Regions from separate parts of the Homo sapiens genome. Here region 2 is linked to region 1. Evidence: fine-mapped expression QTL. Tissue or cell type: whole blood. Region 1 holds a variant in brackets; the other region holds the start of a gene. All regions are shown on one strand. Distances are from middle to middle.

Region 1 (11,977 bases):
TCAGTCCCCATTCTTCTGTGTGACTTCAGGCTGCTTGCCAGAGAGCTGGAGGGAGCAGGGACTCCAGGTTGGCTGGTTCAGGTTGTGGAGGGGAGTGCCATGGGGAGTTCTAGCTCCTCCACCGTGGGTATTTTTCTTTCTGGGCAGAGGGGAGCTGGGGAAAAGTTGGGCCCTACTGCTCTGAGCTCCTAGAATGTTTAAAAAAGGAGGAAGACCCAGCAATTCGTCACGGGAGAAATTACACTAATTGTTCCACTCCATGACTCACTGGTAGAAAGTAAATACTGATTAATTCATTACTTTGAGACTATGTGTGTGTGTGCATTTTGTGAGGGGGCACCTCCTGGCTCCCTGCCCTGGCTGGGCTGGGCAGGGCTCTGGAGCAGGTGGTTGAGGCTGGGGATATGAAGACAGGATTGAGATCCTCACTCTGGCTCTGTATCAACTCCAGAAGGGGGCCCATCAGTGGCAGGGGGTGAGAGGCTGGGCCCCAAATGCAGGGCCATTCCAGCCCTCGCCTGCTCACACATGCCCCAGGGCTCCCCACAGCCAGCCCAACATTGCGGCTGCTCAGAGACCACCCCAGACCTACTGAACCACTGAATTTAGTTTTCACAATATTCAGATGTGCAGTCAAGATGAAAAATGACCAGTTTCTAAGAGAAAGTCATCAGCCAGACACTGAAAGCCTTCTGGGATGGGACCCCAGGTGACTTGCCACACCCCACCCCTGCCCTGTGAATTATTCACACACGCACTTTCCTTCAGGGTACACACAAGATCTCTGTCACCCACGTGGATGTCACTCAGCCCACAAGGGCACCTGTCGCCCTTCTGGGCTCACCCAGGCTGCCAGTCTCGGGTGCCGAGCCCTGTGTCCACCTCTACCTTCCCTAGGCCCAGCGCTGGCGCAGTGAGAACTTCGAGAGACCCGTGGACCTGGAGGGCTCTGGGGATGATGACTCCTTTCCCGATGATGAACTGGATGACCTCTACTCGGGGTCGGGCTCGGGCTGTAAGTACCCCCCTCCCTACCTCTGCCTGGGGGCAGTGACCAGTCTGTATCCAGCCTCAACTCTGAGAAGCCCACGGGGGGCTTGCTTCAGTGAGGCAGGGGGCATTCACTGCCTGGGTCAGGCAAGTTCTTCTTGCTCTGGATCCCCAGAACAAGAAGGGCAGAACATCCTTCTGGGGATAGAACAAGACCTGGGAGGACCTCAGGGCCCAGAATGTCCAGGTCTCCAGGGTCCCACGTCTGCATCTTTGTGTGTGCTATGTGGCTTTCTCTGCAGACCTTGCTTGGTTCCGGTGGTCCCGTCAGGTGCAATAAGCTGTGGCCAATGGTGGGGTTAGGGCAGTGATGACACAGGGCAGGTGCTTCAAGTGGTGCCTGGGATGGCCCCGCCCTGGGGAAGGGGAGCCAGGTCAGCTGGGTCTAGCAGAATCTCGGGAGAGAAGGGCACCGCGAACCCCACTCTGCCATGTAGCAACTGTGTGCCCCTCGGTGCTCCCCCTCCCTGAATCCCTGTATTTTCACCTGTGGATGGTGAGAAATACGACTTCTTCTCAGTGCCTCTAGGAGGGTTTGGGATAGGAAGCTGGGGTCTGGCACAGAGGAGGAGCTCTCAAAATGGTAGCAAAAAGAAGGCAGCTGAGACTGGGCCCAGTGAGGGCACGGGCTGGCATCTGAGGAGATGGTACGGGGTCTGCACGCCACAGAGCTGGCTCCCCACAGCCCTCGCCTCTGGTCTCCCCTCCTTAGCCAAGTCCTTTGAGCCTCTTTCAAATTAATCTTTGTAAAACCCGTTTATATTGGGTCACATCTCTATTCGCAAAGTTCCCTGGCTCCCCTCCCTCCTGCCTGGTTCCGAGCCCAGGAGCTGGCTGTGGCTTCTCCCTCCCCCATCCCCTACTCCCCATCTCATTTCCTCCCAAGTTCCTTCACTGTCCCGGCTTTGCGTCAGCCAGATTGCTCAAGCAGTTCCCCTGCCTCAAGGGCTTCTTTTCCCTTTTACCCTCCGCCTCTGCCTCTGGGGGAAGCCCTTAGTGTACCACCCCTGCCTTGAGCTTGTGGTAGGGGTGCCTTTGGGGTCTGACTCTTCCCAGAATGCCACTCCTGTGTTCCCCTGCAAGCCCCAGCAAGTTTTGCAGCCAGTAGCGCCTCAGTTGCTGCTGCCTGGATTCAACCTCATAGAAACTGTAGGCTGGGTGGGCAGGAATAGTCAAGGAAGGCTTCCCGGGAGAGGCGGCCCCCAGAATTTTTGACTTGGCAGAGAGAAGTTGGGGAACATCAGCAACTGACCACCTTTAGCTGGGCTGTGCCTTCCTCCTTTCTCTCATCTTTTCTGGGAAAATTGGGTAAAGAGAGGGGGTTGGGAGACCTAATCTTGATGGCCATTGCTTACCTGGGATCCTCATGCCCCTCACAACCACCCAGCTCCCTAGCTCTCTCCCTCTCCCCCACCCCCTCAGACTTCGAGCAGGAGTCGGGCATTGAGACAGCCATGCGCTTCAGCCCAGATGTAGCCCTGGCGGTGTCCACCACACCTGCGGTGCTGCCCACCACGAACATCCAGCCTGTGGGCACACCATTTGAAGAGCTCCCCTCTGAGCGCCCCACCCTGGAGCCAGCCACCAGCCCCCTGGTGGTGACAGAAGTCCCGGAAGAGCCCAGCCAGAGAGCCACCACCGTCTCCACTACCATGGCTACCACTGCTGCCACAAGCACAGGGGACCCGACTGTGGCCACAGTGCCTGCCACAGTGGCCACCGCCACCCCCAGCACCCCTGCAGCACCCCCTTTTACGGCCACCACTGCTGTTATAAGGACCACTGGCGTACGGAGGCTTCTGCCTCTCCCACTGACCACAGTGGCTACGGCACGGGCCACTACCCCCGAGGCGCCCTCCCCGCCCACCACGGCGGCTGTCTTGGACACCGAGGCCCCAACACCCAGGCTGGTCAGCACAGCTACCTCCCGGCCAAGAGCCCTTCCCAGGCCGGCCACCACCCAGGAGCCTGACATCCCTGAGAGGAGCACCCTGCCCCTGGGGACCACTGCCCCTGGACCCACAGAGGTGGCTCAGGTGAGGGTGTTGAGAAGGGACAGGGAGGAGGGCGGAGGAGGGTGGGTCAGGGGAGGGATGAGGAGGATGGGGCTGGACAGGACTGAGGACCAGGAGGCTATAGAGATGAGCCAGACAAAGTGGGGGCGAGGGGCAGGACCAAGGGACAGAGATCGGATAGGGAGGGAAGAGGGACAGAAAACGAGGGCTGGGGTGGTTGGATCCTAATGGGATGGGACATTGGTGGGGAAGGAATTGGGTGAACGTGTGCATTGGTGACAAGGGGGGCCGGGCTGAGTGTTTCGGTTGAGAGAATTAATTCAGTGGTCTGGCAGCTGGATTAGAATCTTTCCACTGCCACTTCCTAGTCACGGGACCTCAGGCCAGTCCCTGATCATTTCTATACCTCCGCTTCCTCATCTACGGAAAGGAGAAAACAATAGAATGTGTATCATTTCATTGTGAGCGTGAAGTCTCCTGACATCCACAGTGCTTAGAACAGCGCCTGGTGATGGTACAGCCAGTGGGTTCTCAGCTGCTGTCGTCATCACGGTTGTTATTATCATGGGTCTGAGGGTGGTTAAGAGCTGGTGTATGAGAAGGCATCACTCGCCTTGTGGAGGGCTGCCTGGGTGTGGGTCAGTGCTCAGCACTTTACCTGTGTTAGCCCCAGCCCTCATGCCCACCCCACGGGCAGCACTGTGGTCATCTCATTTTACAGACGAGCAACTGTGGGTGCACAGGGAGGTGAAGCCACTTCCCAAGGCTCCGCAGCCAGCGATGACAGTCAGGATTTGAACCCAGGCAGTTGGTGCCAGAGCCGGGCAGTCTCGCAGGGCCAGGGCTGCATGTGTGTGCATTTGGGATATTCTGGATGGGGCAGGGGAATTGATGGGAAGAGGATGAAGATGTCAGGAGTGCCAGGGATGGATGAATCCCAAGGACATGAGAGAGGTGGTCTGGTCCCAGCTGGGTGCACTAAGTAAGATGGAGAGGTGGGAACATGGACTGGGTGCCAGAGCCCTCTGCAGCTGGCCTCACTGTGGAAGGCCCTTGGGCCGTGGCGCTGCCTTGGGGTCAGTGTCAGTCCCTCTGACTCCCCAGCCAGCTCTAGCAGGATGCAGGCCCTTCCCTTGCCTCCTCAAGCAGCTGGGGCAGCCTGGTGTTTTCACACAGACTTGGCCAAGCAGGAAGGGGAAACAGTGATGGGGCACGGAGCCCAGGAGAAGGTGCACAGGGCCCAGGTTGCTGGAGGAGCCATTGTGCACGCTGTGTACGCTGGGGCACTGCTGCAGCCTCTTTTCAGCCTGGACATCAGGCCTGCCTTTCCATGCCCACCTTTGAAGTAGCGACATCCCTGCTCTGATGGCTCCCACAGCCCCCACTTTGGTCTCATCATTCCCAGCTCTGATCCTGCCTCCGAGTGGTGGGAGCCCTAGAGATTGTCAGTCACTGAGCTGGTTTCCGGGACACCTGCCCCTGAGGCCATCATAGTCTGCAGGTTGTGCTCTTGGACTGGCCTCCAGGCTACAGAATGCTCCCCTGCCTTAGGCATGGACTGGGACCAGGCCCACATCCATAGCATCTGCACCCAGCAGTTCCCAAACAGCTTCTCGGCAGGAATCCCCCAAGGATTGTTACTAAGGCAGCTGGAGGGGACATGAGGGGGACAGGATGTCCAGAGCAAGAACAGAGGCAGTGTGTTAGTGGTTAGAAACACAGACTGTGGAGACAGATAGATCTGAATTTTAGTTCTGTCCCCCACTTACTAGCTGTGTGTCCTTGGGCAGGTCATTTATGCTCTGAGCTGACTTCCTGCTCTGTAAACTGGGGGCATTGTTACACTCCTTCATGGGGATAGTGTGTAGCACAGTGCCTGGCATGTAGGGAGTGCTAAGTGTTAGCCCCCCAGGGCAGTAGGATGGTGGTGGGGGGTTATGCATGCATGTGTGGTTGTCCTGGGCTCATGCCACCCTCTCTGCAGACCCCAACTCCAGAGACCTTCCTGACCACAATCCGGGATGAGCCAGAGGTTCCGGTGAGTGGGGGGCCCAGTGGAGACTTCGAGCTGCCAGAAGAAGAGACCACACAACCAGACACAGCCAATGAGGTGGTAGCTGTGGGAGGGGCTGCGGCCAAGGCATCATCTCCACCTGGGACACTGCCCAAGGGTGCCCGCCCGGGCCCTGGCCTCCTGGACAATGCCATCGACTCGGGCAGCTCAGCTGCTCAGCTGCCTCAGAAGAGTATCCTGGAGCGGAAGGAGGTGCTCGTAGGTGAGGCTTGGGGTCTGGGCCAAGGGGAGCCTGGGAGGATACCAGAGTGAGACAGCTGGCTGGGCCTCAGTTTGCCTCTAGGAACCCAGAAAGGAGATCAGGGCGTGGTTTCCTAGGAGCCAGATAGGAAGGAAACTTGAGAACTCAACCCCCCAGGACCTGCCTTCTGGCTCCTCCCAACTTTCCTCCTTCCCAATATCCAACCCTGACTTCATGTCCATCTCTAGGTCTTCCCTCAGTGTCCTCTGACCCCTCTGTGGACTCTGACTTTGATCCCTGCTTTCCTGGGCCACACTGGCTGACCCCCTGGGACCTTACTTCCTAGATGCTAATCTCTGACCCATCCTTCAGCTTGACCTTCCCCAGTTTTTGACCCCAGTCCCTGTGGACCTGCCCTGGCCGCATCTAGGGAGTCTGTGGACTCCTGGTTCAAATCCTGGCTTTGCACTCAAGGCAAGGTACTTCACCTCTCCAGTCTTCCTTCTCTTCATCGGTAGAATGGGGATAGTCATTTTGCCCTTAATCAATTCTAAGAGGCACATCTGTTCACATGTTAAGTCTTCTGTAGTTGGGGTATGTCATATTTAGTTAGCAGAGCTTTTTCTTTCCTAGCAGTTATAAAATACTGGGGCATCTTATGAGTGGTGGCATTTTAAATTTGATGAAGCCCTCAGATGACCCCTCCCTCATAGGGCTGGTGTGAGGGTTCAGTGAGTTAGTGTGTTGGGCGATTAGAATGCAGCCAGTGAAGGCCTATGATGGTACCCAGTGCTGGTAGTAGTAGTATTGACTCCATCATCACTCCAACTCAGATCTGGGACTCCCAGCCCTCTCCTCACCCTGGCCCCCACCCCTGAGGACCCTTTGCCCTGGTTCTACCCTGCCTCTGGGCCTTGACCTGTGCCCTCTTCTTCCACAGCTGTGATTGTGGGCGGGGTGGTGGGCGCCCTCTTTGCTGCCTTCTTGGTCACACTGCTCATCTATCGTATGAAGAAAAAGGATGAGGGCAGCTACACGCTGGAGGAACCCAAGCAGGCGAGCGTCACATACCAGAAGCCTGACAAGCAGGAGGAGTTCTATGCCTAGTGGAGCCACAGTGCCTCCCTGCAGCCTCAACACCACCCTGCTGTCCAGTCCCCAGCCTGGCCCCACCAGCCCAAGCCTGGGACTGGGCCTGGAACCTGGCCCCAGTTCTTCTCTGCCCTCTCTCCCAAGGTCTGCCCAGGCTGCCAGCCTCACACAGATCTTCCCCGAGGAAGAGGGGCTGCTGCCATCTGCCCCAGACTGTGCCCTTACGAGCTCATCTCTTGTTCCCCTCATCCCTGCCACCAGTCTGGGGCTTCAGGACCTCATGTCAGATGGATGGGAGGAAGAAAGCTCCTGATTGGCTGGTGGTGGAAGAAAGGGTGGGGCTTGAGATGAGCCTGAGCCCTGACTTGGCACCCACAGTGCTCACTGAGATCTCCTTTTTGGGGCAGAGAGGCACTCAGGCTGGTTTCCAGGACAAACATTTGGTAAACACAGCCCTTGAAATCATCTAGACACTGCAACCTCTTGCTCGTATCCCAGGGCCTCTCTCTAGCTGGGTGAGAGGGTGTCCCTTGTCACCAGCCTGTTTTGTCCTGGTCTCTCTGGGGTTGTTGAATCTCTCCTCTTGCCTGCCAAGTACACATGTACCCAGACTTCATTTCTTTCTGCATCTTCCCCCAAGAAACAGCTTCCTGAGGGTGCTGGGGCAGCCACTGGTGAGGAGGGGCTGCTCTGATGTCCCTCCTATGAGGGGACTCTGCACAGACACCATTGCCCACACTATCACCATATTTTCACTCAGTCACACACAAGACAAAAGCATGCAATGACAAAACCATA[C/T]GCAATCCTGACCGCCCAGCCAATCAAGACATATCACAGAACACACGCGTCCTTCCAAGAATGTTTATCCTCATGCATCACTTACACACCCCCAGACACGTACTGCAATGCAAGTCACTAGTCATGGTCACATGACAGTGACAGTGTGGCCTCCTCCTACCCCAAATACACCCACACTCTGGCACCACACACATTGTCTCCAGCTTTCAGGCTTACTGGGGAGGGTGGAATCGAGCCAGAACAATCAGCCCATATTGGGTCCCCCTAAGTTGCCCCGTCATACTCAGTCCCATGCCATGGTGCCCACACCAACCATGCAGCCGCCAACCCCAGCCAGTGTCAGACACAATCCCATGTGGATGCACAGTCTCACTCCACATGACCTGCTCTCAATGCTGGAGGGAAACAGGCAGGCCCTTGCCTTTCTCGGAAAAAGTGTGGGGCCACAGCCCTTTTAGGGCATTGCATGCAGGTGGGCCTGGCTTCACCCCTACCTGCTTCCTCCCCACCGCAGCTGGCAGAGGGGGAGGTTTGGGGCCAGACCCCCACTAGCTGGGAGCCTGGGGGCTCCTCTAAGGCTGAGGAAGGAAATTTGGCCCCAGGTTGTTGGGGGGTCTTGGGTCTCCCAGGACGGAAGGCCCAGGGCAGGGAGGGGGCATGTGGTTGGGCTCCTTTATCTCCCTGTGTCCCCTTCCTGCTTTGAGCTAGGGGGCTGACTCTGCCTCCCAGGACACAAGTCTCCAAAGTGCCTGTGAGGGCGGGCCCTCCGCACCCTCTGCCCTCTGCCTGGCAGGCCAACCTCAGCCCACCTGCCCAGAGGCCCTCCCTGTGGACACCCCCTCACCTATTTGGCCAAACAATTCTGGCTGCAGCTTCAGGGGCCATGGCTGGAAGCAGCCCCTGCAGATCCCTCAGGCCCCGAGGTCAGGGTTTGAGGGATGAGACCAGGTGATAGTGGGGGAGGGGTTACTTCCTTTGTTACCTAGCAAGTAGGGCTATTTCCATCGGTATTTTAAATGTGGGGTCACAGATCTTTTGGGGAGGGTGTGCTTGGCAGGGGGCCTCTTGGAGCCAAAGGGATGTGGTGTGAGTTGCGATTGGCTGGCACTCACACCCCCACCCCTCACCCACATCCCAGATTCAAGTCAGGAAGGCAGGTTTTATTTCAGGGCCCTTTTCAAGATGCCCTGGCAGCAGATTTCTGCAGGATGAGGGGTAGCGGTGTGTAGGCAGTGAGGGGGAGGTTCCAGGGGCTGTCCCACAGCCTGTCTTTTCCAGGCTGGGCTCCATCTTCCAGTCCCAAAACCCTCCTTCACAGGGCCCAGAGGCTTGTGAGGAAGCCAGGTGGACCCAGCCTTAGAAGAGTGGGCATGGGGGGCCCCTGATATCTGGAGGGGGCGGGTTGGCCTCAGTCATCTTTGGAGCAGAAGGGCTGGGTCCTGGGGCCACAGACCACAAGGCTCAGCCTCCCTACCCTGCTCCCTGGGGTGCTGCTGTCTTGGAGAGCACAGCTCTGGTGAGACGGCCTGGGCAGGCCGAGGCTGAGAAACCAGGGAGGATAGAGGAGAAAAGGGCTTGGGCCCCCAGCCCCAGAAGATGCTGGACCCCAGGTGGGAGACCCAACAGTGGGTGCAGTTTCTCAGTAGGGCTGGAGCCAATGGTGGGGGTGGCCCCGGCAGGCCTGGCTCCTCACATCCCAGGGGTTGGCTTCTGATTTGGGGCTTGGGCTCCAGGCACTGGCTTCTCTTCTCTGTGTCCTTAGCATTTGAGAGAAGAGGCCAGGGGCCTTGTTCATGGATCCCTGGACCCAAGGCAGATGTCCAGGCTTTATCCTCCTGAGGATGAGGAGTCTGACCAGCCCAAATCTGCCCTGGCCGGCCTGACCGGGGCAAGGCAGTCCAAGAGAGTTCAGTGAGGACCAGCTAGGCTCTCCCAGGTGCAATGTGGGTGCAGGGCCCTCATGTCCCCCTACCCCTGCCTGTGATGGAGTGTTCTGAGGGGCTTTGGCATTTGCTGGAAGCACAGGGAGTTCCAAATGAGAGGGAGCTTCTGTGGCTTGAGAGCCTCTGGGGCCTTGGCTGCCAGAGCACGAGGCAGGCCAGGACCTGGAGAGCCCAGACCCTGTCTCCAGGAGGCCAGGAGGCCAGATGGGGGCCTTGCCTGAAAGACTGGTCCCCTTGATCGCTGGAGGCATGTGGGTGGCAACCAGGGCTGGGCAGGGCTTAGGGTGTGTGGGCCAAACCCCCCTGGGGTTGGCAAAGCCGCCTGTCAGGCCTCCTGGTGGGGGCCCCTGGACACAGGGAGCAGACCCTCTGCCTCATGGGGTAGGAGTGGCTGCCTCCTGTGTTCTCTGGATTTCTTCTCCCAACAACTACAACCCTGGACTTGCCTCCCCAGGCCTCTTGCCTGTAAATAGAAGCCCGCAAACTGTACAGATTTACAGAGGCATCGAGACTGGGCCCTGGGAGTTGCCATCTGAGAGCCGATGGCCCCAGCATCCCCCAGGTGCCTGCCTGGCACCACAGTGACCCTGGCCTCAGCGTGGCAAATGCATGTAAATATTTTTCGTAGGCAGCGTGGCTCCAGAGAGCCCCCTGAAGACAGTGTCCCTCCCTCCTGTGAGTCCTTTCTCCTGTACAGAACCTGCCTGGGGTGGGTGGGGGTCTGCCATTCCCTCCCCCAGGCCTTCCCTGCCCCTTCTCTCCCCTGTAACCTGTTTATTAACCATACCTGTCCTGAGTTCATGGCCAAAACCTTAAATAAGAAAAACAAAAGAAAAAGACAGTGGAAAAAAGAGACCAAGGCGCCTGCCCCACTGCGGGTACTCTCCTGTTCCAGCCTTGTGAAGGAACTGGTTTTGTTTTTGTTTTTTTTTTTTTTTTTTTTTTTTTGTTTGTTTGTTTTTTTAACACTTCCTGTGCTGTGCCCATTTATAAGAGGAAATAAAATTAAGCTGAAATGATGTGCCGTGTCCAGAGTATGAGATAAATATGGTCATTTGGGGAGGGCAGCCCATGGCCGCACCCTGGGCCCCAGCCATCTTCCCCCATCAAAGAAATTGAGAACCAAGCAGGGAAAATTGACCAACAGCCCCTTGTGGGAACCATTATGGTAAAAGCTGCTGTTGGTTGAGAGTGTCCAGGAAACCACGGAGCCGCTGCGGTGAGGCTGGGATGGGGGCTGTGGTTGGGAGGGGCCAGGCAGTGGTGAGAGGGGCCTGTGGTTCACCCCCAGGGGAACTCTGGCTTTAGGCCACAGAGAAAATCTTGGTACCACAGGATACCAGAATCAGAGCAGCCGAGACGAGACGAGATGGCTTTTAAGTCTGAAGTCTGTTTTCAAGTCCAGGTGTTGACATTTCCTAGCGCTGACTCTGGACAAGCCACTTGACCTCTGTGAGTCTCAGTTTCCCCATCTGTCAAATGGGGTCAGAATATCCCCTACGTGGAATGTTGTGAGGACTGCATGAGGTAGAATGCTCAGCACGGCACCTGCCACAGTCAACACGTAGCTCACAGGGGCTCTGATGATGGCGTTGGAACAGAATAGAACCTTGGGATGGGAGAATGTGACCCAGAATCATCACAGGCCGACTCCTGACATCACAGGGTCATAGAGCTGGGCCAGCCTTGGGGCCCTCCTTGGTGTAGAAATCCCTTTTCCAGCCCCCACTTGGCATAAGTCCTGTCCCAGCCAGCTGGGTGTGTCCCGATGGCCAGTAGGCCACCCTGCCTATTTGGAAGTACTTACTAATTTCAGCTGAAATCTGTCTTTCCAGTGTTGCCCATCTCCAGTGCTCGTACGCCCTGGGGGCACACGAGATTGTTCTGCCCCTTGCAATGGGACAGCCCCCAGGTATGGGTGTAACAGTCACAAAATTCCCTCCTTCGAGGGAAAGCTCTACATGTCCTACAAATATTTCTTCTAGAAATTTCTTCTTCTTGGCCAGGCGTGGTGGCTCATGCCTGTAATCCCATCATTTTGGGTGGCCGAGGTGGGTGGATCATTTGAGGTCAGGAGTTTGAGACCAGCCTGGCCAACATGGTGAAACCTCATCTCTACTAAAAATACAAAAATTAGCTGGGCTTGGTGGTGGGTGCCTGGGTCAGGATCCCAGCTACTTGGGAGACTGAGGCAGGAGAATCACTTGAACCCCGGAGTCAGAGGTTGTGGTGAGCCCAGATTGCGTCACTGCACTCCAGTCTGGGTGACAGAGTGAGAACCTGTCTCAAGAAAAAAAAAAGAAAGAAATTTCTTCTTAATATGTGATAGGCAGGGTGCTGTTGGCCCTGGGAGTGGGTTGGAGCCCGAGGCCTATGGCTTTGGTACACCATCCTACCCATCCCTCCCTCCTTCCAATGAAGTTTCTGTGCCTGGCTCTGTGCTTGGAACTGGGAGCCGAGGGGTCCCCACAACAGCCCCGACCCCTCTCCCTAGAGCATGTACAGTCTATCCGGGAGATAGCTGATAACCAGAGTCTTGTGACTGTGTGATGACACTGGTCTGTGGTGGTGGCGGTGGTTGTGGGAGGGGGGGGGTCATTCTTTCTCAGCTGCCACCTCCAAGCCCCACCAAGATTGCCCCTCACTGCTAGGCAGTTCAGGGACAGAGCCCTGGTGCCCGGGGCCTCACTGTGGGACCTCAGACAGTTTGACTCCTTGGAGCCTCAGTCTGCACAGCTATAAAATGGGGTGAAGGGGCCAGACCTGCCACTGGGAGGTCCTCACAGGAGTGGGCCAGTTAGACACCTGCTATGATGTGAGGGGT
Region 2 (11,977 bases), 35 kb before region 1:
GGCTCGTGTTTTTTTTCTTTTGTTTTGTTTTGTTATTTTTTTTTAGAGATGGGGTTTTGCCATGTTGCCCAGGCTGGTCTTGAACTTCTGAGCTCAAGTGATCTGCCCTCCCTAGCCTCCCAACGTGCTACGATTACAGGCGTGAGCCAACGCCCAGCCCAGTCCACCTCTGACTTTGCTGGATTCAGGCGATAGTATCTGGCGGGGTGGTGGGTGGCCATTCAGAGGCACATTTGCCATAAAATGAAGCTGATGCTTCAGGGCCCTTCATTTGCACAGCCGCTTTCCAAAGCCTTCTTCCTAACTGTGTACTCGAGATCCCTTCAAACCGTATAAGCTTCAGACCCTACAGAGGTGGGACCCACCTTGTTTCCACCCCTACCCAGCTTGGAGTCCCAGAGCTCTCCTCTCCCCTCAAGCAGCTCCCCTCCCCGACTGCCAATCTGGGGCTTCTTCAGCCACAGGCCCTGCTGAGTCTACACAGCCTCTTCCCTCCTACAAGGCCAGCCCAGGCCTTGCTCTGTGACCTACAGGCCACAGAGCTCAAACAAAATCTGATTACTCCCCCTCCTCGCACACCAGCCCTGAGGAACCTGGGGATCCACCAGCCCTCAGGAACGCTTTGGGATCTACAGTTTGCAAACCCTCAGCTCACAGACCTGGAAGAGGCCTGAGTTCAAATCCTAACCTGTGTCTAGCAGCCATGTGTCCTGGGGTGTCACCTACCCTCTCACCCTACAAGGACTTTCCCAGCACACAGGGAGGTCAGGGAAGGCTGGCCGAGCCTGGCTCTGTACTAAGGGCGGGGCATGGCTCTGTGAGACCCTCATATGGGCCAGGTCCCTTCGGCGGGCAGGAGGCTCCCCACGATTGAGGACCCCTGTTGTGGGAAGGCCAAGCCTTCTCCCAGTCACCCTGGTCCGGCCACAGGCCTTGCAGATCCTTCCCCAGTGAGATTTCCACTCACTGGGGCACCAGATGGCTTCTGAGTCTCCCCAGCTTCCCCTAGGAGGACTTTGGGATCCTCCTGATCTGGAGCCCTCTTGTCAGAGCCCTGTTTTGGTTCCTCAGTTTTGGGGGTCACTGACCTCCAAGACTGCTGTCACTTGGACTTTCTCAGAAGCAAGCCTGGGCTGTGGCCTCCATCCTGACTCTTGGGCAAGACCGGAAGTTGTGGTGGGAGATGGTTGGGGTGGGGAGGGAGCAGGATGGAGATGGGGGTGGCGAGGGGAGGCCGGGACTTGTTTTGCAAGCCCTGTGATTGCCTTGAGCTGAGACAGCACTTGTGTTTGGGAGGTCTGGTAAGGATCATAAAGTCCCCTCTGCCCACGGGGGACAGCTCAGCACAGGGTGAAAAGCCAGGGCTCTGTCATCACATGCCTGGTTCAAATCCTGGCTGCCCACTTCCTGGCTGGGTGACCTGGGATAAATTATTGAACTCCTGTGAGCCCCAGATTCCCCAGCTGTGAAATGGGACGAAGTAGAGAGCAAGCACCTGGACAGGGCTCACTGTGTGCCGGACTCCAGGGCTGGCCGCTCATTTGGTTCTCATAGTAGCAGCCCTGGGAGGCAAGTTTGCTTGTCGTGCCCAAATTACAGGCCTGTGGGGAGGAGTAGATGAGGGTGTGTTTGGCAAGTGCTCAGAACAGTGCCTGGCAGGTAGTAAGGCCTCCATCAATCTTGGCTTTTAGGATGCCATGGGACTGTTGAGGTCCAGAGAGCTGGTTGTCTTAGCCAATCCCCTGGGGGACAGGTAGAGTCAGGTGACAGCTACTGAGCACCCACTCTGTGTCAGGCCTGGGCGTGCCACTCTGAATAAGGCATCTTAGGCTCACCTGAGTGGAGTTCAGAGATGCCGCTGAGGCGTCCCCACCCCTCTGCTGCTTGGTTAGAGCTAGGAGGCCCTGTCAAGGGCAGAGAAGGCTCTGACTGGGGTGGGGGTGAGGTGGAAAGGTTGAGATGTAGCCACTAGGCGTGCCTTGTGGGGTTCCCCAGGGGCCAGACTGCATGAGTATGTCTGCATGTTGGTGTGTGACTGTGTGAATCCCCTCGGTGACTCTAATTCATTCATCAAACGCCTCCCAATACACCACTGGGCCTGGCATTGCAGTTTAACTGTTGGCCTGGGTCAGGATCTCAGCTCTCACTGCCAGTCGTGGTGCCTCGGCATATCTCCTATCTTCTCTGTGTATTGGTTTTTCATCTGGAAATGGGGCTAATGTGAGTGTGCATTTGATAGAGCAGTGCCTGGCCCATAATCAGCTCCACTTGGGCCCTTCTATAGCTACTGTTCATTTGGGATACTGAATGCTCCCACTTTTGAGCAAGACAGACAGTAGGGACTGAAAGCAGGGTGGGGAGTGCAGGATGAGTGTGATCAGGATGCCGGCAGGACAGGACCAGGCCTGATCACCCAGAGGACATCAGGAAGACTTCCCAGAGGAGGCAGTGTGTATTCTAAAGGCCGGAGGGGGCTGTGACTATTGTGCCAGGAGGCGGCAGCAGCTGGTGCCTGTGGGTGAGGTTATGGTGCTATGAAGGGAGACCCTGAGTATGTGGGGATGTGGCTCCAATGCACAAGGAGGCCTGGGCAAGGGTGACTGTGCAGATGACCCATGTGCTTGAGGGCAGGAAATGTGTGCATCTGTGAACCCCAGGGAGACCTGGGACCCGGGGGGAGCAAGATGAGAAGGACCTTCAGGGGCCCAGACCTGTCTTAGTTCTGGCTGTGACCAGTGTCTTTGAAGAGCAGCAGGTGGCGCTCCTGGCCTGTCCAGACCAAAGATTCTCCACTGCCCCGCCCCCACCTCTTCCCCAGGATGTCAGGGAAGTGGAGTTGCTGCTTCCAGAAGTCTCAGAGCTGGCAGGAACCTCTGAAGATGGGCCATGCTCACTGCCCATCTTACTCATGGAAACCATCCTAATGGTCTCCCTGCTAGATAGTTCTCCGAGCCTTGAATACCTCTCAAGACAGGATACTTACTGCCTCTTAGAATTGCCACTGCTGTCTGTGGCCAGCTGACATCTGGCTCCTCATAATCCCCACCCTAACCCTGCTGGCCCTTTGGGAGCGCCTCAGGGTTGGTATGTTCCTGGGATCTGCTCAGCATCTCTGAAGGATGATGTTATCCCTACATCTGAGTCCCTTCCTTTGTAAGCTTCATTCCCAGCCACCTTCATTGAACTCCATTACGATGGCAGGGAAGAGCTCATGTAATCCTCACAACCTGGTACCTGGCCTGGCACACAGCAGGCACCCAATTTATGCTTGCTAAATGAATGAATGAATGAACTCTGCGTGGTCATTATCTCTATATTACAGTTGGGAAATTGAGGCTCAGAGAGGTTAAGTCACACATCCAACACAATACAGCTCATAACTGGCAGAACTGGGATTTGAACCCAGATACTTGGCCGACCCAGAGCCAGAGCTCTTCAATTCCAAGCTGTGCTACCTCAACAGAAACCAGTTTCCCACCTATTGCACCCCATCAGCCTCCCTGCCCATCTCCCCAAGGTGCCAGTCAAATTTGGATCGAGCATTGATGTCATGCCAAAAGATTTGAGAATTGAATTTTCAGAGGCTGGGACCTCAGAATTCCTAGTTCGAAAGTCTCCCTGTCTTCCCTGTCCAGGATCCCTGTCAAAGGGTGGTGAGCTTGCCTTTCATACCCTTTAGGGACTGGGCTCTCCCTCCCTCCTGGGGAGCCCCTTCTAATTTATCTCTACTTTATGTTGAGTTGACCTTTGTCCCCTGGTCCTCCTCCCAAGGGCCCTGCAGGACAAGTACAGTTACCCCCAACACCAAAAACCCATGGCTGGTCCCCCAGAGTCTCTTCCTCAAGGCCTGCCCCTCCATTCATCCTGGTTTTGGTTCCCCTTTCCTTGAGGGAATTGTTCCAGTTTCAACTCAATTTCGTTCCCCTATTTTCTTTTCTTTTCTTTTTTTTTTTTTTTTTGTTTTTGAGAAGGAGTCTCGCTCTGTCGCCCAGGCTGGAGTGCAGTGGCGCGATCTCGGCTCACTGCAAGCTCCGCCTCCCGGGTTCATGCCATTCTCCTGCCTCACCCTCCTGGTAGCTGGGACTACAGGCGCCCGCCACCACGCCCGGCTAATTTTTTTGTATTGTTAGTAGAGACGGGGTTTCACCATGTTGGCCAGGATCTCCTGACCTCGTGATCCACCCGCCTCGGCCTCCCAACGTGGTGGGATTACAGGCGTGAGCCACCACGACCGGCCTGATTTCATTCCTATTTTCTAATGGCAGGCTCTAAGCTGGGTGCTGGGACACAGGGGCCAGAGAGGAGAGTAACTGAGGGTAGAGACGTCCAGCCAGCTGTCATCAGCAAATAACCTCTTCTTGCTGGCTCTCAGCTTCCCCACCTAAGAAGTGAAGATATTGACAGACCGACCTTATGGGGTTCCTGAGAAATGATATAACACATGAAAGCGCTGGGCACCTGGCATGTGGTCAGGGTTCCAGAAATGTTTCACTCTCCCCTATCTTGCCCCAAAACACTTGGTTTTGAGCCCCAGTAAATGGGAAACACATTCATTGATTCAGCAAATTTGGATTGAGCATCGATGTCATGCCGAGCTCTGTGCTGGTGCTGGGGACATAGCAGTGAACAAGACAGACACAAAACCCTGCCCCCGCTGGAGCTAACACGCCATTGGAGACTTGGAGAAGTAAGAACAGCATGGGGTATGCCGCTGGGGATGAAGGTGAAGGGGGAAAAGGCACCGTGACCACACAGGGTAGAAAGACCACCAGCGCTAGAGACTGCCACTCAGAGATGTACTTTTCTCGCCATCCTGCACTGGAGGGGGTGGTCCCATTCAACCATGGGGGGTCTGAGTCTCAGAGAACTGGGGGCCTTGCTGGAGGCGCACAGCTGGTGTGGAAGCAGCTGCGCTCAGGTCTGCGTGGCTTTTCCTCTGCAGATCCACAGTGACAGGGCCCAGAAGTGACCACCCCCATGGTCCCCTGGGGAGACCGAGGCCCAGAGAGGGCCGGGCCCTGATCTGAGGTCACACAGCCCCTGGGTGTCCTGGAGGCATGAAAGCCCGTGGTCTTGGATGACCTCTGGCCCACTGGGTGGACTGGCTGAGTGTGTGAGGGTGACGATGGGAGTCCAGGAAGAGACACGTGCGTGGAGCCACAGGGGGAGGCTGTAGATGAAAACGCCCATGCGACCCCTCCGCTCGGCGACTTCAGGGAGCCAGGCCCGGGCCCTGGTATCCCACGCGGGACCCTTCCCTTCTACCTAGCACGGCGGCCGCGGAGGTGCGTCCGGCGGGCTCCGCGACCTCCAGCCCCGGGATCGGCGAGGCCGGCTGCTCACTCAGGTGTCCGGGTGCCCACTCGGCAGCGCGGGGCTCCCTCTGGGTGGGGGCGGGGGCTGGGACTGGGGTCAGAGGGCGCGGAGCCCCGCGGGGGGCGCACTGGGGCCCGCCCCGCCCCGGGCCCCTCCTCCGTTCCGCCCGCGCTGGGGGCGGCCCGGCGGCGGCGGCGGCGGCGCACGCTTCCTGCGGGCGCGGCCGCTGTGGGCGCGGAGCTGCGAGGCGGAGCCGGGCGGCCGAGCCGGGAGCCCGCGAGCCTAGAGCGCGTCGGTCCAGCCGCCGGGCCGCGCCGCCGCCAAGCAGCCGCCCCGCGCGCCGCGCCTCGGGAACAAAGGCGCCCGCCCGCCGCCCGCCGCCCGCGCCCGCGCCGCCGCCATGAAGCCGGGGCCGCCGCACCGTGCCGGGGCCGCCCACGGGGCCGGCGCCGGGGCCGGGGCCGCGGCCGGGCCCGGGGCCCGCGGGCTGCTCCTGCCACCGCTGCTGCTGCTGCTGCTGGCGGGGCGCGCCGCGGGGGTGAGTGACACGCGCCCGGATCCCCGCCACGGCTCCCCGGGGCCGCCCCCCGCGCGGGGTGCCGGTCCCCGCCCGCGACCCCCCCTCCGGGACCCCGCTCCCTCCCCCCCGGCTGCTTCCCCCGGGGCCGCGGTCCCTGCCACCCCTCGACCCTCCCCCGAGCGCCCCTTTCTGCACCCTGCTCCCCCCCCTCCGGAATCTCCCCCTAGCTGGCATCCGCGGGGAGAGGCCGCCCCCGCCGCTGGTCATCTTCGGGGGGCGCATCTCTCCTTCCTTTTGGGACCCCTCCCCAGAGGGAATCCCGGGAGGGAACCCGATCGCGGGTCCTCAGCCCTGTTCCCCCACCTCCCAGTGGCTCCGGGAACTGTCTCCCCGGGGACGAAGCGGGACCCCTGCGCTGGCCTGGGAGGCGCGAGAAGGACCCGGCGGCGGGCTGGGGGTCGCCGTCCCGGCTGGGTGTGTCTTGGGGTGGGAGTGAGCCTGGCTTTTGCCTCGTGGGTGTGCCCAGACCATGGCCACTTTTTGGGAATCGGATCGGTTCCCCTTCCGAGGGGAGGGTGTGCATTTGGTTCTTCCCAGGGTCGCGGCAGCCGGCCAGGGCAGTGGGCCCGGGAAGGGGAGGTGGAGGTGGAGGGTGACTTGGTGAAGGTGACCTGAGGGGGGAGTGAGGGTAACCCTGTGTGTGGGCGTGTGTGGGCGTGTGTGGCCAACTCAGTGAGGGGTGCGGGGACCTGTGGGGCGTGTGCAGGTGAAGGATGTGTCTGCCACATGGGTGGATGCCAGCGTGCCCTCCCGTCCGTGGTCGTGGGAGGGTGACCCATTGTGCATGATGTGTGCCTGTGCCTGGCTGGGCCACTGTTGGCTATGGCCGTGTGTGGCTGCAGTGGGTGAGGGTGTGTGTGTGAAAGACCTCTGGTGGGCGTGTGCTTGGACCCATGAATGTGTGTGAGTGCACATAGCAGCGTGTGCATGCAGGTGCATGGGGGACCCTGGACATAGGACGAGGACCCCTGAGGGGAACCAAGCATGTGCAGGTGGAGGTGATGGTATGTATGAGGTGACCCTTGAGTGTCCCTTTGAGTGACCGTAGCAGCCATGCTTGGTCCCAGCTCCGTCAGGGATGGCAGAGAAAGGAAGGACCTCATCCCCCTTTGAGGGATCCAGGCCCCAGATGAGTTCTTGTTGGACAAGTGTCCAGGTTCTGGCTCAGGCGGGCTGGGGATTTCTAGGTCCAGCCTCCCAGGTTGGTTCCAGGAGCTATGCTGTCCTGCATCCCCCAGGCTGAAAAGGACCCAGGCCTCTCAAGCAACACTGGGTGCCCAGCCGCCCTCTGCAAGTTCCTTCCCTTTCCCAGCCTCAGTGGGCCAGTCAGTAAGACAGGAGGAGGACAGGCAGGGGCTCCAAGCTTGCTTCTTGGATGGACAGGCCCCTCCTCAGCCTTCCCCATCTAGGGGGCTGTCAGCTGGAGGGAGGGGAAGTGTTGAGGGCTGACCTGTGTGAAGTGCCTGCTGGCCAGGATGTCTCATTCCCAGCTCTCCCCTAAGTGGGGTGAGAGGAAGAGGTCCCTGGGAGGGATAGAGACCCAGCACACCCTAGCAGCTGGGGTCGCCTTCTCAGCCAAATTTCTGAAAGACCATCCTTAAAATCAAAGGCTTGGGAATCACACAACCCTGGGTTCCAATCCTGCTACCCCCGCCGATTCGTGGCATGGTTTGGGCAGGTCCTCTTACTTCTCTGACCCTTGGTTGTCCCTCTGTGAAATGGGGCTAATGACCCCTTCCTCAGAGGGCAAAAATTCAATGGGATGACTGACGAGTGTCCTGAGAAGGAGCTCAGGAGTCATGTGGTGTGCACATGAATGAAAGGGGCTCAGGACAGAAAGCTTTAGACTTGGAGGCCAGGTGGAGCGCTGGGCAGGCCACTTTCCTTGCTGAATAAGGCTAATAATTCATACTCCACGAGGTGGTGGAAGGACTTAGTGAGAGCATTTAATAGCCTCATGCACAGTAGGGCCTCGCAACACGGGTGACCTGAATCTGAGAGGTGTGGCTCAGACCCAGTGTTGGGTGGCAGATCAAGCAGACCCTGGGAGTCTGAGCCCAGAGGCTGAAATGGTGGGTGGGGCCTGGGGGAGGGCAGGTACTGGGGCGCCTGGTGAGGTGGTGGGAAGTGGAGTGTCCTCCAGGCCTCACATCTTCCCATGGGTCAAGCTGTCAAGGAGGGGCATCATCCCTCTTGTCCTCATCTGACTTGGGAGGAAAAGGGTTAATGGGTGGTACCTGGTTGCCGGGGTTCCGCACCAGAGGGAGAGGGCAGTGCCTGCAGCAGGAGGGACTGAGGTTAGATCAGAAGAGCCCCAGCCAGGGAAGCTCCAGGGGTGGCCTTGGTAGATGAGCGGTGGCTGGCACAGGGCAGGGAAGGGCAGGGACATGATGACCCTTGGGTCACCTGCCAGCCTTTGTGTGTGTGTGTGTGTGTGTGTGTGTGTCTTCGTGTCTTTCAGCATGGGGATAGCAGGGAGAGCAGGCCTCATTCACACTGCAGATGGTGAATTGCAGTGTGTGTGTGTGTGTGTGTTTGTGTGTCTGTGTCTGTCTCCTGGCATCTCCTTTGAGGAGTCCCTCTTCTGACAGACCAAGTTACCAGGACTCTGAGGGACATCTGCCTTTAAGGCCACCTCAGCTACTGTACTTAAGTCACCACTCAAAGTTTTGGAGTGTGAGGATCCTGAACATTTTAGCTTTTGAAACATGTTCTTTCAAAAGTCCAGGGCTGGAAGGGATCTTAGGTGTTAGTCTTGTTTGAATACTCCCAGTGATGGGAGACCACTACCTTGTGGCTGTGTGACCTTGTGAAAGTTACCTAACCTCTCTGTGCCTTAGTTTCCACCTCTTTAAAATGGAGACAATGCGAGAATGGAAGGGCTTAATTTGGAAAGCTTTTAGCCCAGTGGCTGGCACCTACTAAGGGCTCAACAAATATGGATTTCTTGTTCTTTTACAAAGTTGCTGTACTGTGGTTGGGAAGGCAGGAGGGGTGGGGAGTGGAAGGGTGGGAGACGTGTGTGTGTGTGTGTGTGTGTGTGTGTGTGTTTGTGAGAGAGAGAGAGTACGGATGGGGGTGGGGGTGGGGGTGGGGTGGGGTGGGGGAATTAGTAGGGAATTCTTTTGAAGCTCAGCCCCAGGCCTGGTGGTTTCCGTTCCTTCCTCACCCTGTTTCAAGCATCCCTGCTCTTCTCCCCTCCAGGCTCCCCTGGGTGACTGTGAGCCTTGGGTTTCCAGGATGAGATAGTCCTCACCAAAAAAATGGAAAGTTGGGGGCCCCTGGGCTGTTCTGGGCCAGGCTCTTGGGTGAACCATCTCCCCTTCCAGCATTTGGGGGACAGGCACAGGGACACCACAGCTGTATGCTGCCTGTTAGCTCCCAAGGTACCAGGGGCTCTGGGGACAGACACCTGCTGTGTGATTTCCAGTGAGGGATTTCTTTCTGTCTCAAAGTCCTTGTCTATAAAATGCGGACAGTAATGGTGTCAGCCTCACAGGGATGTTGTGACTTGGAAATGAGCTGCTTGAGTAGACCGAGCACACCTGCCACGTAGTGAGCTCTCAGGAGATGGGACCTTTCTGGGAGGGAGCATGGATGGGGTCAGGGAAGGCTTCCTGGAGGAGGAGGGTTTTGAGCTAAGCAATGAAAGTGGTCATCACATGACAGTAGCAGGCTGTAACCTGCCCTGACCCTCAGCTTTCTTACCTGTCAACTGGGGGCAACAAATACTTGGCTTTTAGAATCACTACTGGGGGCTGTGACTCTATCCTCAAGGCAGGGCTGGGATTTGAACCTGAAGCCTCCTGCTCTCTGGGGAGGAGTGAGCACAATGCCTCCAGCTGTGAGTTCAGTGTGTTGGGGGTTGGTGCGAGGTGAGCTGTGCTGGAAAAAAAAGTGAAAGAAAACAACAAACAAAAAACAAAAAAAATGGCCTTTTGAAACCCAGTGGCTCCTCCCACCTCATACAAGCGGGCATAGGGTCCCTGGGGGGTCCGGGGCAGCAGGAGTGGTGGCAGTGGTGGGGAGAGCGAGGGGGGGCTCATCCCAAGTGGGAGAGAGAGGTCATGTTTACCGAGAGCCCCGCCCACCAAGCACTTTACATGTATCGGCTTATTTCATCCTTACAATAATTTTTTGATGTAGGAATTATTAGAATCCTCATTTTAGTATTTTATTTTATTTAGAGACAGAGTCTCTATCGCCAAGGCTGGAGTGTGGTGGTATGATCCTGGCTCACTGCAACCTCTGCCTCCTGAGTACAAGCGATTCTCCCACCTCAGCCTCCCAAGTAGCTGGGATTACAGGCACCTGACACCACACCTGCCTAATTTTTGTATTTTTAGTAGAGATGGGGTTTCACCATGTTGCCCAGGCTGTTCTCGAACACCTGACCTCAAGTGATCTTCCCACCTCGGCCCCCGCAAAGTGCTGGGATTACAGTTGTGAGCCACAACCCCCAGCCAGAACCCCCATTTTACAGAGGAGAAAACTGAGGCACAGAGAGGCTCAGTGACTTACTCAAAGTCACACAGCCAGAAGTGGCAGAGCTAGTATGAGCCAGGGCCTGACAGGCTAATGGGACTGGGCTGCAGTCCTAAATTTACCCCCTCTTGCTGTGTGATCTTAGGCAAGCTGCTTTACCTCTCTGGGGCCTCCCTACCCCCTGGATTATGTCTGCATTAGCTACTGTTTAGTAAATGCCTGCTCTTCTGGCGGGGTGGGGCTGGGAAGGGGGTTGGTCCCATATCTTTTCTCACTTAATTCTCCCACAGCCCTGGAGGTCAGTGATGCTGTCTCACCCTGTGGGAGGGATTGGCCAGGGCTCTTCCTCATCTACCGCCTCCCAAGGCTCTGTAGCCCATAAAAGCAGCTACTCTGAGGGCCACTGGGGGTGTATGGGGTGGGGAGAGAGAGCTTTATAAACTGCGAAGGGCTGTCAGCAAGATTGTGTGTGCGTGCATGTGTACATTTGTGTGTGTGCCCACACATGTGTATGCGGAAGGGAGTTTATGTCTGGGTCATGTGGTCAGGGCACAGGAGAGGGGAAATGTTTGGAATCTCAGGATGAGAGGGGTCTAAAAAGCCACCATAAGCCCTGATATGTGCCAGATGCCCCCAGTGTTGGGGACTGAGTCTGCAGAGGTGACCAGGCCTGCCTTTAACCCCCTCTGGCCCTTAGAAAGTGTGTGGAGGCCAAATCCGTGTTCCTCCTGCTCCATCTCTGAGCACTGGCCCCATTGCAGCCAAGATTCTCTCTGGCCTCATAGTGATTGAGGCTTAGAGATGGGGTGTGACTTGGTGGGGGTCCCCCAGCTGTCAGGAGTGATGTCAGTGCTTTCTTGATAGACTTTGAGCTTCCTGGGCAGGCTCGTGGCTGCCATGTTTTCTCACTGAACCCCCAGGGACCACTCTGTGCTTGGTGCAGGCTCGAGTGAATGATTCAAAGGAATGAATGAATGAATGAGGGAATAAAGGAATGAAGGAAGCCGGGACTGTGAGCTATGGAGCCCAGGCAGGGGCTTGTGTCCTTTCCTGTGTAGGTGGGTTGGGGACAGTGAGGCTGGCAGAGTCCTGCTGCATGCAAGGCATGTGCCCGTGGGCTGGGAGGCGCCAGGGGGCTGCATCGGGCGGGCCTTCAGTCTGAGTGCCAAGGCACTGCCACCACCACATCTGGGCAGGACCGAGGGACTGTGGCTCTGGACTACAGCCCAGCTGCTTGGAGCCCTTTGATTTTGTGTCTCAAGGGACAGGGTGGCCAGAGCCAGGAGCTGCCCAGGCCCCAGGCCCTTGCTCCCATCATCCCCCCAAACCCCTGTCCCAGCAGGGAGCAGGGTCCTGGACTTCCTGACCTGTCTCACTGGCCCCTCCAGGCCTCTGTCCTCCATAACATCACATCCTGGGAACATCGGGCTGGCTCTTGGTAAATATTTGTTGATGGCACCCCCCACACCCTCACTCCCCTTGGCTCCCAGCCTCCCCAGATTCCAGGAGGCCTGGTGGCCTTCACTTCCGGCCCCCCTCCCGCCATGGCCAGAGGGGCAGCCACTCCCCTCCCCCACTGGCCAAGCCCAGTCTCAG

What was found.
Region 2: it holds the start of SDC3, and the variant in region 1 is fine-mapped to the expression of SDC3 in whole blood (TOPMed, PIP above 0.99).

The regions. Positions count from the first base shown.
Region 1 is chr1:30,867,661-30,879,637 of GRCh38, reverse strand. SDC3 (syndecan 3) reads left to right here. Exons shown (of 5, transcript NM_014654.4): 2 at 898-1,015; 3 at 2,473-3,086; 4 at 5,050-5,341; 5 at 6,261-10,172. The coding sequence ends at 6,427. Among named protein-coding and RNA genes, the nearest start is that of SDC3, 35 kb to the left of the region's middle. RefSeq lists an enhancer at 8,231-9,102. The variant C/T (reference allele first, on the strand shown) is at 7,211.
Region 2 is chr1:30,902,326-30,914,302 of GRCh38, reverse strand. SDC3 (syndecan 3) reads left to right here and starts at 5,545. Exons shown (of 5, transcript NM_014654.4): 1 at 5,545-5,854. The coding sequence starts at 5,717. RefSeq lists a silencer at 5,501-5,590.